2 separate regions of the Homo sapiens genome follow, and region 1 is linked to region 2. A link means that fine-mapping ties the variant in region 2 to the expression of a gene that starts in the linked region. Tissue or cell type: whole blood. Region 2 holds a variant in brackets; the other region holds the start of a gene. All regions are shown on one strand. Distances are from middle to middle.

Region 1 (7,748 bases), 39 kb before region 2:
AATCACTGAGCGCCTTCCAAGGGCAAAATGTCTATACAAACTATCTCATGAATGCTCTCCCTGCAAACACCCATGACAAAACAAAGGGAGGCTCAGAGAGGTTAAACAACTTCCTCCAGATTACACAGTGGAGAGCTGGGAAGTAGCCAGCTCCGATTTAAACCTGGGATCCCCTCTTCAAGCTCAGGCCCTTCTCTCTGCCTTAAGCTCAGAGACGCAGAGCAATTTGCTGGATATCATAAAACAGTGGTGATGCACCCGGTCTGACAGTGGATCCCCCAGCCTCTGTAGCACCTCAAGCCTCTGCCGGGGCGCTCCGATCCACATTCACCAAGGGCAGGTCTGTGCAACCTCCAGACAAGCTCCTGGCCTCTCTTCTAGCCCAGCCATGGTAAGTCTAGCTAAACGTGGCTGGGCATGTCTCCACTGTGCCAGCCAGGAGGAAAACTCAGAAATGTCTTTCTTGGTCACCCCAGTGAACTGGTACAAGCAGGAAAGAATACATGGGAAGAAAAGTAGGATGGAGTCTGTCCCTCAGATGTGGACCTGAGGCAAGGCTACTGCATTCATCTCCGGGTCTCAGTTCTCACCTGCAAAATGAGTGGACTAAATCCCAACCAATAAAGCTCAAAGGAGGCAACAGTAAAGATTTATTCATTTAGGCCAGGCACGTTTGCTCGCATCTATAAATCCAACACTTTAGGAGGCTGAGGCAGGAGGACTGCTTGAGACCAGCAGTTCAAGACTAGCCTAGGCAACATAGCAAGATCCTGTCTCTAAAAATATAAAAACAATTAGCCAGCCGTGGTGGCACACACCTGTAGTCCCAGCTACTCAGGAGGCTGAGGTGGAAGGATTACTTGAACCCAGGTATTGGATGCTACAGTGAGCTATGATTGTGCCACTGTGCTCCAGCCTGGGAAATAGAGAGAGACCATGGCTCTAAAAAAAAAAAAAAGGTATTCATTTAACAAATACATAGTTTGTACTACATACCAGGTACTGTTTTGTATGCTTGACATATATTAACTCATTTAGTCATCACTACAATGGCATAGTCACTATAATCTCATAAATGCAGAAACTGAGGCTCTGGGAAGTCAGTTACACAGTAAGCAGCAAAGCCAGCATTTGCACTGGGTGATCTGGCTCAAGTCCATACTGTCACTCCCCAGCTATACGTTTTGACAGGTAACAACAGACATATACATTGATTGTGGACCCACTGGGTGTTGGACATTGTGTGAAGTAGCTTATAAAACATGTCATCAACCCTCAAGAAAGTTCACTTTTACAAATGTGAGGAAGAACAGTACTTAGGCGGCTTCTGTCCTGGCCTCACTCCCAGGTACCAGTGAGGGCAGTCGAGAGGTGGGGCATCTAATCCCAAACGCTCTCCTCCATCGTCCCAGATGGGGTGGGTGGAAGAGGGCAGGGAGATGGGGGAGGTAGAAAAGGTTCTCTCTTCTCATGTATTTATGTATTTGTTTATTTTGAGACAGAGTCTCGCTCTGTCACCCAGGCTACAGTGCAGTGGCACAATCATAGTTCACTGCAGCCTTGACCACCTGGGCTCAAGCCATCCTCCCACCTCAGCCTCCCAAATAGCTGGGGCTAGAGGCACCTGCTACCACGCCTGGCTAAGTTTTTAAATTTTTTTTGTAGGAACAGGATCTCACTATGTTGCCCAGGCTGGTCTCAAACTCCTGGGTTCAAGCGATCCTCTCTCAGCCTCCCAAAGTGCTGGGATTACAGGTGTGAGTCACTGCGCCCAGCTTGTCACTTCTTTGACAATTCATTTCAGCTCCTTTTTGAACTGGGAGCATTAGAAAACTGAACACCCCCACCCTTGCCCTGGGCATTTTGCAACCGGGATTGTATTGTATTAAACATATCAGTCATTGAGTCACTTCCTAGCATTTGGAAACCCTTAGGTTATCTCGGACCTGCCGGTAACTGCATGTGTTGTAAATGGGGTGAGTGACTGCAGGTTTTCCTCCCTGCTGCCTCCCCAGCGTCTCCCTCCAGATTCAGATCCAGAGGCCCAGGGTGGGGCCCAGGAATCTGCATTGTTGCTTTTACAACTCAAGCCAAGGTGAATACACTGGCCCAAGTTCCTTGGCATGGCATTCAAGGCTTTCCACAATGCAGCCCAGCCCAACTTTCCATCCATCTCTGGCTTCTGCTTACTCCCTAGGTTCTGTACACAGTGCCCTTTCACACTTCCCAGCCTCCGCCCACTCTGTGCCTCCCTTTACCTCCCATCCTCTACCTGCCAGACTCCCCTGCTCTACTCACAAGGCTAGCTCAGGGTCCCTGGGTGCTGGGAAGCCTGGCCCAGTGACCTTTGAAGAGCTGATCCCCTCTGGCTTGTGGTCCTGCAGCCGCTGGTGCATCCGCACCCTCCCAGCCCTCACGTCTGTCTTCCTGCAGAGGGGGTGCTCCTTGAGGCAAGCACCAGTGCCCAGAACACCACCCAGGGCCTCGCAGGAGCTGAATGAGTGCTAGTGAGTGAATGAGTGGCTTAGCAGGTCACCTCCCATTCATGGGCTGGGCTAGCCGAGTTCTAAGAAACCCCTGCAGGACCCTGGAATGCCCTAATGTGCAGGACACCCTGGCCAAACCTACACCTGAGCCTGTTTCCCCATTGGACTTTGGGATTTTGATAAAGGCACTGAGGTCCCAGCAAATGCCTTGGGCTCCTCATAGGCTACTGGGGGCAGGGAAGTGCAGTGGGTCATGCCTCCCAGAGGGCTGGGGAAGGGGAGAGACTAGAACTGGAGCAGGGTTAGCGCTGGCCTGGGGGCATTCCTTGAACCCCAGAAGCAGACAAACTAGTGGTCCCCTATCTTGCTTAAGTCTAAGAAATCCAGATTTTGTTTAAAAAAAAAATCAGGGCTCAGTGGCTCACACCTGTCATCCCAGCATTTTGGGAGGCCGAGGTGGGAGGATCACTTGAGGCCAGCCTGGACAACATAGTGAGACACCATCTTTATAAAATAAATTTTTAAAAATAAAATAAAGATCAGATTCCTGGGTTTACTGAATCTGAATCTCAGGGCAAGGACCTGGGAATCTGCATTTTAAGCAAATCTCCCGGAGATTCTGGTTATTGTGGGGGCTCCTCAAACGTGATTGAGAGATGGAGAGCAGCTGGCTCTGGCGTGGGATTGCCTGGGCTCTAGTCCTGCTGCCCCACGGACTCCCAAGTGGGCGGCACCTTAGGGCAAGTTACTAAAGCGGCTGGGGTCTTGGTGACCTCATCTGTACAATGTCCATGACGCACAGCACCGGCCACAGAGAAGTTAGTGGGAGGTTTCACTTGGCATCCTTTCAGTAAAACAAGTCCCAGTCAATGATCGCGATTATTGGGTCCATCTGATATTCGGAGGCGGAGACCGCCCCGATTCACTGACCTACTACTCAAATTTACAGTTCTCAGAACTTTCCCCACCCTTTCTCTCTCCGAAGTCCTCACTGACTTCCTGAGCGCAGGGCTGGGCGCCACTGCCCGGAGAAGAGGGGCTGCGTGGCCTCCGACAGCCTAACCCCAAGCCCCCCACCCCCGCAGGCCGTCCCGGCGGAGGTCTCACTGCCAGCACCGGCTTTGGGGAGCGCTGGGTGTCCACGTACCCCGGGCCTCGCGCCTCCGCTGCCGTTCGGCGGCAAGGACGGAACCGGGCGCTGCTCCGCGCGCACCGAGAGTCGCGGGCTCGGGCCCCGCTCGGAGTCGGGGTGGTCCCCGTGGTCCCCGCCGGCGGCCGAGCCCTTCCCGAACGCCCTCAGCCGGCGTGCCCGGGCGATACCTTCGCAACCCGATCCGCGCGCGGGCCCCGGATCCTACCTGCGCGCCCCTGCTCCATTCGCCGTCCGGGCGCCCAAGCGGGAAGTGGGGGACCCCTGGGTGGCCCTTCCCTGGCCCGCGCCGCGCGGGGCTTTCCTGGGCGCGGAGACCCAGCCCGCCCCGGCTTCCTGCTCCCCGCCCCGGCGCCCGGCAGATTTGCATGCGCCGCCCCGCCCGGCGCGCCCGGCCCGGGTCCCGGCCACCTCGCGCCCCTGTCGCTGTCCCCGCCGCCGCCGCCGGACAGTCCGAGCCGCCGTCCTCTCCTGGGGGCGACCCCAGCACCTCGCTGGGTGTCTTGCCGCGCGCTTCCTCCCACGCCGTAGCCCGAGGTCACGCCCAGCGGAGAACTCTGCAGTGGATCCCCTTGGTCTCGGAATAAAACGCCCACGCCGACCAGGCCTCCAGGACCTGCTCCTGCCTGGCCTCCGCGGCCTCTTTTGCGCCGGGGCAGTTGCGTTTGGTGGGGGAGGGCTGGGCGACTGGAATCCTCCTCCCCTTCCTAACAGCCCGGCTTCCAAGTGAGAGTGGTTGCACATTCTTCAATAAATGTTTACCCAACTCCTACTCCAGCCACATTTGGATAGTAAAACAGCCCTTCAATCAGTAACTAGTACAATCTGTCGGGCACTGCAAATGTTAACTCGTTCAATCCTGGCAACTACCCTATAAGGGAGTGATACTATCACCGGTTTTACAAATCAGGAAACTGAGGCACAGAGTCCTTAAGAAATTCAAAATGGGTTGGGCAAAGTGGCTCATGCCTGTAATCCCAGCACTTTGGGAAGCTGAGGCGGGAGGATCACTTGAACCCCATAGTTCGAGACCAGCCTGGGCAACCCTGTTAGCGAGACCCCTATCTACAAAAATTGACATTTATAAAATTTTAAAAAAGAAAAGAAAGAAACTCAGAATCACTCTGCAGGTAAGCAGGAGCAGGGGTGGAGCTGGGATTCGAACACAGGCCCCATAGACCATTAACGTCTGGACACCATAAGAACCCGGATGCAGCCAGATGACTGGGGGGAAAACACTCAACAAAGTATTTCAGGTCAGGAGGGCCCAAGAAGAAAGTAGGGACCTCTTAGACCAGTGGGGCAGGTGGTCTGGAAGAGGCTTTTTGAGTAGAGGCCATTTGAGCTGAGACTCTGAAGAGCCTATGGGGGAAGACTTGTGTAGGGAGAGGGAAGAGCTAGTGCAAAGGCCCTGTGGGAACCAGCTCAGCCTGCAGGAGGAATTGCTGAAGGCCGGCATGGCTGTGGAGCCCTGAGTGAGGAAAGAGCGGAGACAGGGGAGGTGGGAGATATTTGGACTCACACTGGGCAGTGCTGAGAACCCAGAGAGTAATTTGACCCCCTGCTGCCCTCAAGGAGCTCTCAGTTTGAGGGTGGAAGCCAAGGACTGCCCAATGGGATCAAGTGCTGTGGTGGAGGGTGAGGGTTGGCTTCCCAGGGCAGGGGCCACTGCACGTCAATCATTCTTTTTTTTTTTTTGAAGATGGGGTCTCATTCCATTGCCTAGGCTGGAGTGCAGTGGGTGATCTCAGCTCACTGCAACCTCCACTTCCTGAGTTCAAGCAATTCTCCTGCCTCAGCCTCCTGAGTAGCTGGAATTACAAGCGTGCACCACCACGTCCGGCTCATTTTTGTATTTTTAGTAGACATGAGGTTTCACTATGTTGGCCAGGCTGGTATCAAACTCCTGACCTCAGGTGATCTGCCTGCCTCTGCCTCCCGAAGTGCTGGGATTACAGGTGTGAGCCACCACGCCTGGCCCATATGTCAATCATTCTTTCATGTACTTGGTCTGTCTTGGTCCTACTGTGTGTCTAACCTTGTGACAAGCGCTGATGACGCAGACCTGAAGACATGAAACAGACACAATCCCTGCCCTCTGAGACCTTACAACCAAGTGAGCAAGACAGCCACCAACCCACCCCCGGAAGTGACAGTAAAGATAAGTCAGTTCCCTGGGGTCAGGGATGGCTTCCTGGAGGAGGTGACCTCTGACCAGTGCCTGAATCAATGCAGAAAAACATGCAGGTGGAAGGGACAGCATGAGCAAATACCTGGAGGTGGCGTGGGAGTGTGGAAAAACTCCCATCCTTCGGCATCTGTTTGTGGATGCCTCCATATGCCAAGTCGTGAGCTGGGGGCTAGGGAGAGCAAGAAATAGATCCAGCCCCTGCTTCCTAGCCCTGAGGACCTGGTTGGGGCACTGACAAGTGAGCAGACGTAAGCAATTGAAGTGAACAGATGTAAGCAATTGAGTGTAATAAACCCCGTACTGGGGGCAGCCCAGGCAGACGCTAAGAGGACTAGGGAGAGAAGGCCACAGGAAGGGCTTTCCTGGAAGCTTGGGTTTCAGGAGGAATAGGAATCCTCTGGATTAGGTGTGACTTCCACTCCCGTCCACACTCATACTCCCTCACACTCATTACTCACACATCCGCACACCCACACGGTTGATGCTTCATCCCAGGCAGTTCAGCCCTGCAAGCTGCCTTTGTCCTGTCTGTGTTTCTGAGTTTGTGCCCCATGTCATCGGGAGACGACAGCAAAAGTCTACCTTTGAAGTCCTTTGGGAATGTATGGCTTGGGCTATATCCCCTCCTGGACTCCCAAACTGGGCTCCCATCCTGTTTTCCCAGTCAAGTCATCCTTCGTCGGTTTCCTCGCTTGCCTCTAGACTGCCGGCATTGGCATACCAACTCTGCTACGTATTGACTATGTGACTTTGGGCAAAGTAGATCATCCTCCCTGTGCTTCAGTTTCCCCATCTGTAAAATGGGGATAATAATAGACCCACCTCATAGGGCTATGAAATGGTGAAATGGCAAGGTACGTATCGCAGTGCCTAGAATAGTGCCTGGCGTGGATTAGGCATTCAAAATGTCAATTGCTGTTCTTATCAGGATGAAAATGAGAAAGAAGCAAAGTCGAAGCCTGTTGCCTTGGTCTGTTGCTTGGTTGTGAAATGGAGATGAACGTGGCATTGAGAAGACAGGCAAAGAAAGCACAGCTGTGGTCAGAGGCTAAGACATTCAGGAAATCTGGGGGAAGAGACTTCGGGAATTCTTTGTACTCTTCTCCCAACTTTCCCGCCAGTCTGAAATTATGTCAAATTACAAAGTTAAAGAAAACAGGGCATTGTTCTCGGGTGCAAGAGAGATAATAAATGTCTTCTTGCATACAGTCCCACTGTTCAAGTTCCTGCCCAAGATGCCCAGACTTTATCTGTGACTGCTCCGTCAGTCCTGGGAGCAGGTCCAAAGGCACCAAGATAGTAAAACCTCTGTTCCCCCATCTAGGGGTTCCCAAGTCTTGCCTCAGTATAAGCTCAATCCTCATTATATCCTAACACGCTTACTTGTTTCCAAGCCTTTCGGTCTTTAAAACTAATAGAGTTTATTTTTTAGAACCATTGTAGATTATGGAAAAATTGAGCCGATAGTACTGAGAGTTCCCATACATCCCTCTCCCCCATGCAAAATTTCCTCTTTTATCAACATCTTGCATTAGTGTGTAGTGCCTTCCTTATAATGCTGATACATTATTATAAACTAAAGTCCATAGCATACATTGTTTCACTGTTTCTCGGGGTTTTGTTTTGTTTTGTTTTGTTTTGTGTTTGTTTGCTTGTTTGGAAACAAGGTCTCACTCTGTTGCCCAGGCTGGAGCAGCCTGGAACTCCTGGACTCAGGGGATCCTCCTGCTTCTGCCTTCTGAGTAGCTTGGGCTACAAGAACATGCCACCACACTAGGCTTTTTTTTTTTTATACTTTTAGAGACAGTCTTGCTACATTGCCCAAGCTGGTCTCAGACTCCTAAGCTGAAGTTATCCTTCCATCTCAGCCTCCTAAAGTGCTGGGATTACAAGCATGAGCCACTGTGCCTAACCTCTGCAG
Region 2 (7,748 bases):
GAGGTTTCACTGTGTTAGCCAGGATGGTCTCGATCTCCTGACCTCATGATCTGCCCGCCTCAGCCTCCCAAAGTGCTGGGATTACAGGCATGAGCCACCGTGCCCGGCCGGCCTATTGACAGTTTTTAAAATTGACCTTTGGGAGCTGTCACCATTCCTTTTAAGAAGAGTGATGAGTAGAGGGCGATCATTTTCCTTTTTTTCCCTACCAACTTGCGCGCATCACCTCTGCTAGATTGAACTTAAAATTTCTTTTCTTTTCTTTTCCCTCCCTCCCTCTCTTTTTCTTTTGAGGCAGAATCTCACTCTTGCCCAGGCTGGAGTGCAGTGGCGCCATCTCGGCTCACTGCAACCTCCGCCTCCTGGGTTCAAGCGATTCTCCTGCCTCAGCCTCCTGAGTAGCTGGGATTATAGGCATGTGCCACCATGCCTGGCTAATTTTGTGTGTGTGTGTGTATTTTTGTATTTTTAGTAGAGATGGGGTTTCGCCCAGGTTGTTCTCAAACTCCTGACCTCACGTGATCCAATTGTCTTGGCCTCCCAAAGTGCTGGGATTACAGGCATGAGCCACTGCACCTGGCTTGAACTTAAAATTTCATGAATCCAAAAATTATGTATTTATCACACTGCTGAGCTTTATAAAAAAAGAAACAAAAATGATGTAGTATACAAATGCTGATGAAAACGACTCTGAAAAGGGCTTGACCTGGGCTGTGAAAAACCCGGTCTCTAGTCTCCATTCTCTTCTCCATTCATTGCTATGTACTTTTCAAAAATACACTTTTAATTCTTTTTTCATATTTTCACTCCTATCAGAAATTTGTTTTCAAATACAGAAAAGTAAAAGTGAAAAAAATGACAGTTGTCCATTTTTCTACCATCCAACATTAACCACTGTTAACATTTTGGCATATTTGACTTTAACGCCTTTTTAAAGCCAATATTTGAAAAATTAAATTTTCAAATCTTTTCAATCCTTAAATTCATTGCTATATGAATACATAGTTTTATTATTTTAGTTCACAATTAGAATACTCCAGGCTGGGAGCGGTGGCTCACGCCTATAATCCCACTTTCGGAGGCTGAGGTGGGCGGATTACTTGAGGTCAGGAGTTCAAGACCAGCCTGGCCAACATGAGGAAACCCCGTCTCCACTAAAAATACAAAAATTAGCTGGGTGTGGTGGCGTGCACCTGTAGTCCCAGCTACTTGGGAGGCTGAGGCAGGAGAATCGCTTGAACCTAGGAGGCAGAGGTTGCAGTGAGCCAAGATCGCGTCACTGCACTCCAGCATGGGTGACAGAACAAGACTCCAGCTCAAAATAAATGAATAGAAATAAAATTAGAATATTCCAGATAAACCTCAAGATCTTTATTCTCTTCTCCCATCCCAATCTTCCTTTCCCCTTCCTAGAGGCCCTCTAGCTTGAGCTTTATAACAATCTTTTCAATCCTTAAATAGAAAATAGTTTTATATGCATATGCTTATCTACTGGCAAATTATAATATTGCCATTTTGCACTGCTCCAAATTTGCATAAATGGTGATCTTGCTGTATCATCTTTATATCTTGCTTTTCCCCCACTCTATCTATGCTTTCAGGATTCATTCATGTAGACACTTGTGAGTTAATTCATTCCTTTTCATGTTATATGACCACCCGTGGTACATGACTATCTTGCTTTTTGATTTCCTTATTAATGGCTCTTTAGGACGTTTCATTTTTTCCCACCACATTGTTGCAGCAAATCTCAAGCACACATGGGAGATTTTCTTCAGTTAAATTCCTAGAAGTGGAATTGCTAGATAAGCTTTTTCAATTTCAGTAACACCAAATAGCTCTCCAGAGGGGCTATATACAACATTTATAACCCCACCATATACGTACAATACTGGTCTTTCTTTACCCTTGACCACATTTTGTCATTCTTATAGGGAAAAAGTTGGTTTCCTTTTCTTGTTTTATTTCCAACTAATAGTGAGGTTAAACATCTTTCCATATATATTTATATTTAAATGTATATTTTATATTTATATTTAAATATATATTTTATAAATATACATATATATAAATATATATATATATATATTTTAATATGGAGTCTAGCTCCATCACCCAGGCTGGAGTGCAGTGGTGTGATCTTGGCTCAATGCAACCTCTGCCTCCCAGGTTCAAGTGATTCTCCCACCTCAGCCTCCCAAGTAGCTGGGACTACAGGTGCCTGCCACCATGCCCAGCTAATTTTTGTATTTTTAGGAGAGATGGGGTTTCACCATGTTGGCCAGGCTTGTCTCGAACTCCTGACCTCAAGTGATCCACCCGCCTCAGCCTCCCAAAATCCTGGGATTACAGGCATGAGCTATTGCACCTGGTCCCCACATATTTTTTGGCCATGTGAATTTTCTCTTTTGGAAGAGATATTCTTTTGATACACTGGTAGACTGAATTTTTTTCAATACATATTTGTAATATAGATGAGCCTGACATTTTCTTTAATTTTGCTGTTCTCTTTTTGGTGTCAAAATTAAACTAGTCTCAGAATGTGTTGAATAGCTTTCTCTATCTTGTTCATATTCCAGTGAATTTTGCATAATATAGTCTTTTTGTGTGTGCTGATCACTCCAGTAAAACTTACTTGTTCTGGACATCTTAGGAGGTGAAGCATATCCTATATTTCTAGTTCGATTTCATTAGTGATTATTACTTTTAATGGCAAAAACCTCAATTACTTTTGCACCAACCTAACACTTTTCTTCTTGGGTCAAGTTTTGTAATTTTTATTTTTGTTAAAATTACCTTTTTTCTAATTTTTCAAATGTATTGGCATAAAGTTTGTGGTATACTTTTGTGCTTTCTAAAATTTTTACTCTAGCTGGTATGTTCAGTTTGCCATTTATCGTATTGTTTGTATGATTTTCTTGATCAATCTTACATGAAGTTTTTCTATTTTATTAGTCATTAAGAGAACACCAGCTTTTGGCTTCTATAATCAACTTCATTTTCTTTTGTTCTTTGTTTTACTCATTTCTGCTTTTTCATTCTTATTTCCTTCCTTCTGCTTTCTCTGGGTTTCTGTAGTTGTTATTTTTCTAACTTTTAACAATTAACTCCCTTACATTTTTTCTTATTTTGTAAGAAGTATAAAGCTATAAGTCCCCCTCTAATTATTATTATTATTATTATTATTTTTATTTTGAGATGGAGTCTTGCTCTGTCACCCAGGCTGGAGCGCAGTGGCGTGATCTCAGGTCACTGCAGCCTCCGCCTCCAGGGTTCAAGCGGTTCTCCTGCCTCAGCCTGCTGATTACCTGGGATTACATGCATCCACCACCATGCCCGGCTAATTTTTGTATTTTTAGTAGGGACGGGGTTTTGTCATGTTGGCCAGGCTGGTCTCGAACTCCTGATCTCAGGTGATCTGCCCACCTCAGGCTCCCAAAGTGCTGGGATTACAGGCGTGAACCCCGTGCCCAGCTAATTATTTAGTTGGATCCCACATGTTTTATGATGTCAGGTTTTCATTGTCATTTATTTCCAAATATTTTATAATTTCCATATTGGTTTTCTTTTTAATCTGAATGTTTTCAGTTTCTAAACATGTGTTCTTTTTCTTTTAAAAATGTATGATAAAATCTTTCAACATATAAAAAATATAATACCTGTGTACATGGTCCTGTACTCAACACCTCACTTAAGAAATAAAACTCGAATATATGCTTATAATTTTTAATTTTAATTTTAATTTTTATTTTTTTGAGACAGAGCTTTGCTCTTGTTGCCCAGGCTGGAGTACAATGGCACGATCTTGGCTCACTGCAACCTCTGCCTCCTGGGTTCAAGGAATTCTCCTGCCTCAACCTCCTGAGTAGCTGGGATTACAGGCACTCACCACCATGCCTGGCTGATTTTTTTGTATTTTCAGTAGAGATGCGGTTTCATCATGTTGTCCAGGCTGGTCTCAAACTCCTGACCTCAGGTGATCCACCTGCCTTGGCCTCCCAAAGTGCAGGGGTTACAGGCGTGAGCCAGTGCGTCCGCCCAATTTTTAATTTTTAAAAATTCGTAAGTAATAGATGTACGTGGTTAAAAAAAAAAGTTCATTCTGACTTCCTGG[C/A]CCCTTCCTCAGAAGCAGCTGCAGTTACTAATTTAAGGTGTATTGTATCTACACCTTTTTGGCTCTCTTTTTGTTGTTGATGTTTAATTTTACCACATTGCGGTTTGTGAATGTGGTCTATAGATTCTTTGGAATTCATTTAAGCTTCCTTTGTGGCCCAGTACATAGTCAATTTCTGTAAAGAATAGATATACCAAAGTTTTTTTTTCTAAAATACAAGCCTGATCTCATCACTTACTTTTCATAAGCTTCTGTGGTCTTCGGGTGAAAGACCAACACCCTCAGCATATTATTTCCCGAAGCTTCCTCTCTAGCCAAGGCCTTGGCCCTCGCCTTGTGGTCAACAAATTTATGTACTCATAGCTCTCATGCATTTTAGGGTCAGCTTTGAGAAGTCTGAACCATCAGAGCTGTCCAGGAATAGAGAGTCCAAAGTCTGGCACTTCAAAGGCCCAATAAATACTCACAGAGCCCACTAGGGAATGAGCCGTCCTCTGAGTCATACTGAGGCAGGACTGTCACCCCATGGGGGACCACTCTGCATGATGAACTTCGATCCTTACTCACTACTTGTTCCTGCTGAACGAGATTCACCTCATAGAGGCCTCTGATTGCTGTACTGCTTCCATTTTAATTTGTCAGCACTTTCCCTTCTTTTTATTTTTGCCAGATCCATAGTGGATCACTTGACAGTAGCATTCTCCCGTCACTTGGCCTTCTATGAATCAGTTGCTTAACCCCAGCTAAGGCCCACTTCAGTATGAATCCAGGCTGAGCTTCTGCTCTGAAGCCCCCAGGATGGGGATGGGGGTGTTGAGGGAGGGATCAGATAACCAACTGTCATCTCTACACATTTCTGGTTTCAACCTCAGCTAGGAACTCATCTCTGCATTGTCGTCAGCGTCTCTTCCAAACCTTTTGATCCATTCCCCTTAAATCCCTTAGCATCTCCTCAGCACCTCCCAACCTTTTTTTGGGATAGGCTGGTGTGCAGTGGCACCATCCCTCAACCTTAACCTCAACTGTAGCCTCAACCTCCTGGGCTCTACCTCCCAGGCTCAAGCCATCCTCCCACCTCAACCTCTCAAGTAGCTGGGACTACAGACACATGCCACCACACTCGGCTAATTTTTAATTTTTTTTTTGTAGAGACGAGGTCTTGCTGTGTTGCCCAGGCTGGTCTCGAACTCCTGATCTCAAGCAATCCTCCCACCTCAGCCTCCCAAAGTGCTGGGATTACAAGTGTGAGCCACCACGCCAGGCCCTCTTCAGCCAAAGATTGATACTGTTTGCTACCTTACGGAGAAAACGGAAAACATCAGGAGTGAGCTTTTTTTAGCCACTTTCACCTCTTTTCCTGCTGTTTCAGAAGTGTCTCTTCTCTTCTCTAGGTTAACAGTAATCCTGTCGCTATACACCTTTGACCCCATCCCTTTTTGTCTGTTTTTTTTTTGGTGTTTTTTTTTTTTTTTTTAAGACAGAGTCTTGCTCTGTTGCCCAGGCTGGGGTGCACTGGCACAGTCTCGGCTCACTGCAACCTCCACCTCCTGGGTTCAAGACATTCTCCTGCCTCAGCGTCCAGAGTAGCTGGGACTACAGGTGTGCGCCACTACGCCCGGCTAATTTTTTGTATTTTTAGTAGAGATGGGGTCTCACTATGTTGGCCAGGCTAGTCTCAAATTCTTTTTTTTTTTTTTTTTGAGATGGAATCTCACTCTGTCACCCAGGCTGGAGTACAGTGGCTCGATCTCAGCTCACAGCAACCTCTGCCTCCTGGGTTTAAGTGATTCTTCTGCCTCAGCCTCCCAAGTAGCTGGGCCTACAGGCACGCACCACCATGCCCAGCTAATTTTTGTATTTTTAGTAGAGACAGGGTGTTACCATATTGGCCAGGCTGGTCTCGAACTCCTGACCTCATGATCCACCCGCCTCGGCCTGCCAAAGTGCTGGGATTACAGACGTGAGCCACCGCACCCGGCTGCCTGTTTTTATTTTATGGATTATTATCTCTGCTCCTATGTCTTCAAGTCTTCCCTTCTGAAGCCATACTTCCCAAAAGAGCAGTCAGCATTCCCTCTCCACTTCCTCAACTTCCACTCTTCACTCTTGGAGTTCGATCTGGCTTCCTCCCCTCTCTATTAAGATGGCCTTTGTTGGCCATCAAATTCTAAATCAGTGGCGCATCTTACTCGACCTCTCCAGAGCATTGACGATTCTGACCACACCCTCCTTCTCAAAAGTCTGTATTCCTATGTGCCTCTGATGCCACTTTCACAGCATGTGGTTCATGAATGTCACCTATAGATTCTTGAGAATTTCTTGAAGCTTCCTTTGTGGCCCAGTAATCAATTTCTGTAAATGTTCCAAGCATGTTTGAAAAGAATAGATATACCCAAGTTCTTTTTCTAAAATACAAACCTTCTCTCATTTCTTCCTGGTCTTCCATCACTTCTATGGTCTTCAAGTGAAAGACCAACCCCCTCAGTCTTGAATCTTTCTTTTCTTTCTACCTTTTTTTCTTGACGCTTTGATCTTGAAATGCTGGTGTTCCCAGCGTTTTCTATTCTTTTATCTCTCCACACACCAGGGAAGCACATGCTTCACAAAAGGGGACGGTCTCTCCCAAGTTCTGAACAAGTGCTGCCATGGGGGAAGGCTGGCCCACTGTCGTCAGACTTCCCCACTTTTCCAGAGCAGTCAGCTACAGTAGGGTTTTATGTGAAATGTCCCAAGTTTATTTATTTATTTTTGAGACAGAGTCTGGCTCTGTCACACAGGCTGGAGTGCAGTGATGCAATCTCAGCTCACTGCAACCTCTTCCTCCTTGGCTCAAGCTGTCCTCCCACCTCAGCCTCTTGAGTAGCTGGGACCACAGGTGTTCACCACCATGCCTGGCTAATTTTTGCGTGTGTGTGTGTGTGTGTGTGTGTGTGCGCGCGCGCGTATATATTTTTTTTGTAGAGATGGGGGCCTCACCATGTTGGCCATGGCTGATCTCAAACTTCTGAGCTCAAGCCATCCTCCCAGCTGGGCCTCCCAAAGTGTTGGAATTACAGGAATGAGCCATCATGCCCAGTCAAAGATTGAAAACCCCAACTTTAAATATTGATAATGAATAGAAAATTTCACAAAACCATGTAGGGCAAACAAAACACAAATATTACTCCTTAGGGCTTTATTTCCCCTCTTATTTGACTACCTATTAGGCAGTTTATAAAGAACTTATTAGTGGTGTTAGTTCACACTTATTGAGGGCTTACAATGTGCCAGAGACACTCTTCTAAGTAGTTTACGTTTACTCTTCCTTTAATCTTCAGAATAACATTATCAACAAAGTGTTATTATTAAACCTGCTTTATAGATGAGCAAACTGAAGCTGAAAACTTGAGCTCAGTCATCCCTTAGTATCTGTGAGGGATTGGTACCTTAGTCCCCATGGATACCAAAATTCTCGATGCTCAAGTCCCTTATGTAAAATCAAAACCACCTTTGTAAAAAGCATAACTGAGAAAATTATGATAGTGAAAGAGATCTGGCCTGACTCCATCTTGCTTCTAACTTCCAAGCTGTCCTTGATCATTCCTGGACATAGGTGGAATTAATGTTGGAAAGAACTTAGTTTATAGTTTAACTT

The links. PIP is the estimated chance that this variant, and not a neighbour inherited with it, causes the effect.
Region 1: it holds the start of IL4R, and the variant in region 2 is fine-mapped to the expression of IL4R in whole blood (TOPMed, PIP above 0.99).

Annotation. Positions count from the first base shown.
Region 1 is chr16:27,310,117-27,317,864 of GRCh38, reverse strand. It overlaps IL4R (interleukin 4 receptor), which reads right to left and starts at 3,891. Exons shown (of 11, transcript NM_000418.4): 1 at 3,845-3,891. RefSeq lists silencers at 3,151-3,200, 3,641-3,850, 3,871-4,170 and enhancers at 3,948-4,678, 5,501-6,700.
Region 2 is chr16:27,270,859-27,278,606 of GRCh38, reverse strand. All of the region lies in intron 1 of NSMCE1-DT (NSMCE1 divergent transcript), which reads right to left. Among named protein-coding and RNA genes, the nearest start is that of NSMCE1, 6.0 kb to the right of the region's middle. RefSeq lists an enhancer at 6,405-6,953. The variant C/A (reference allele first, on the strand shown) is at 4,115.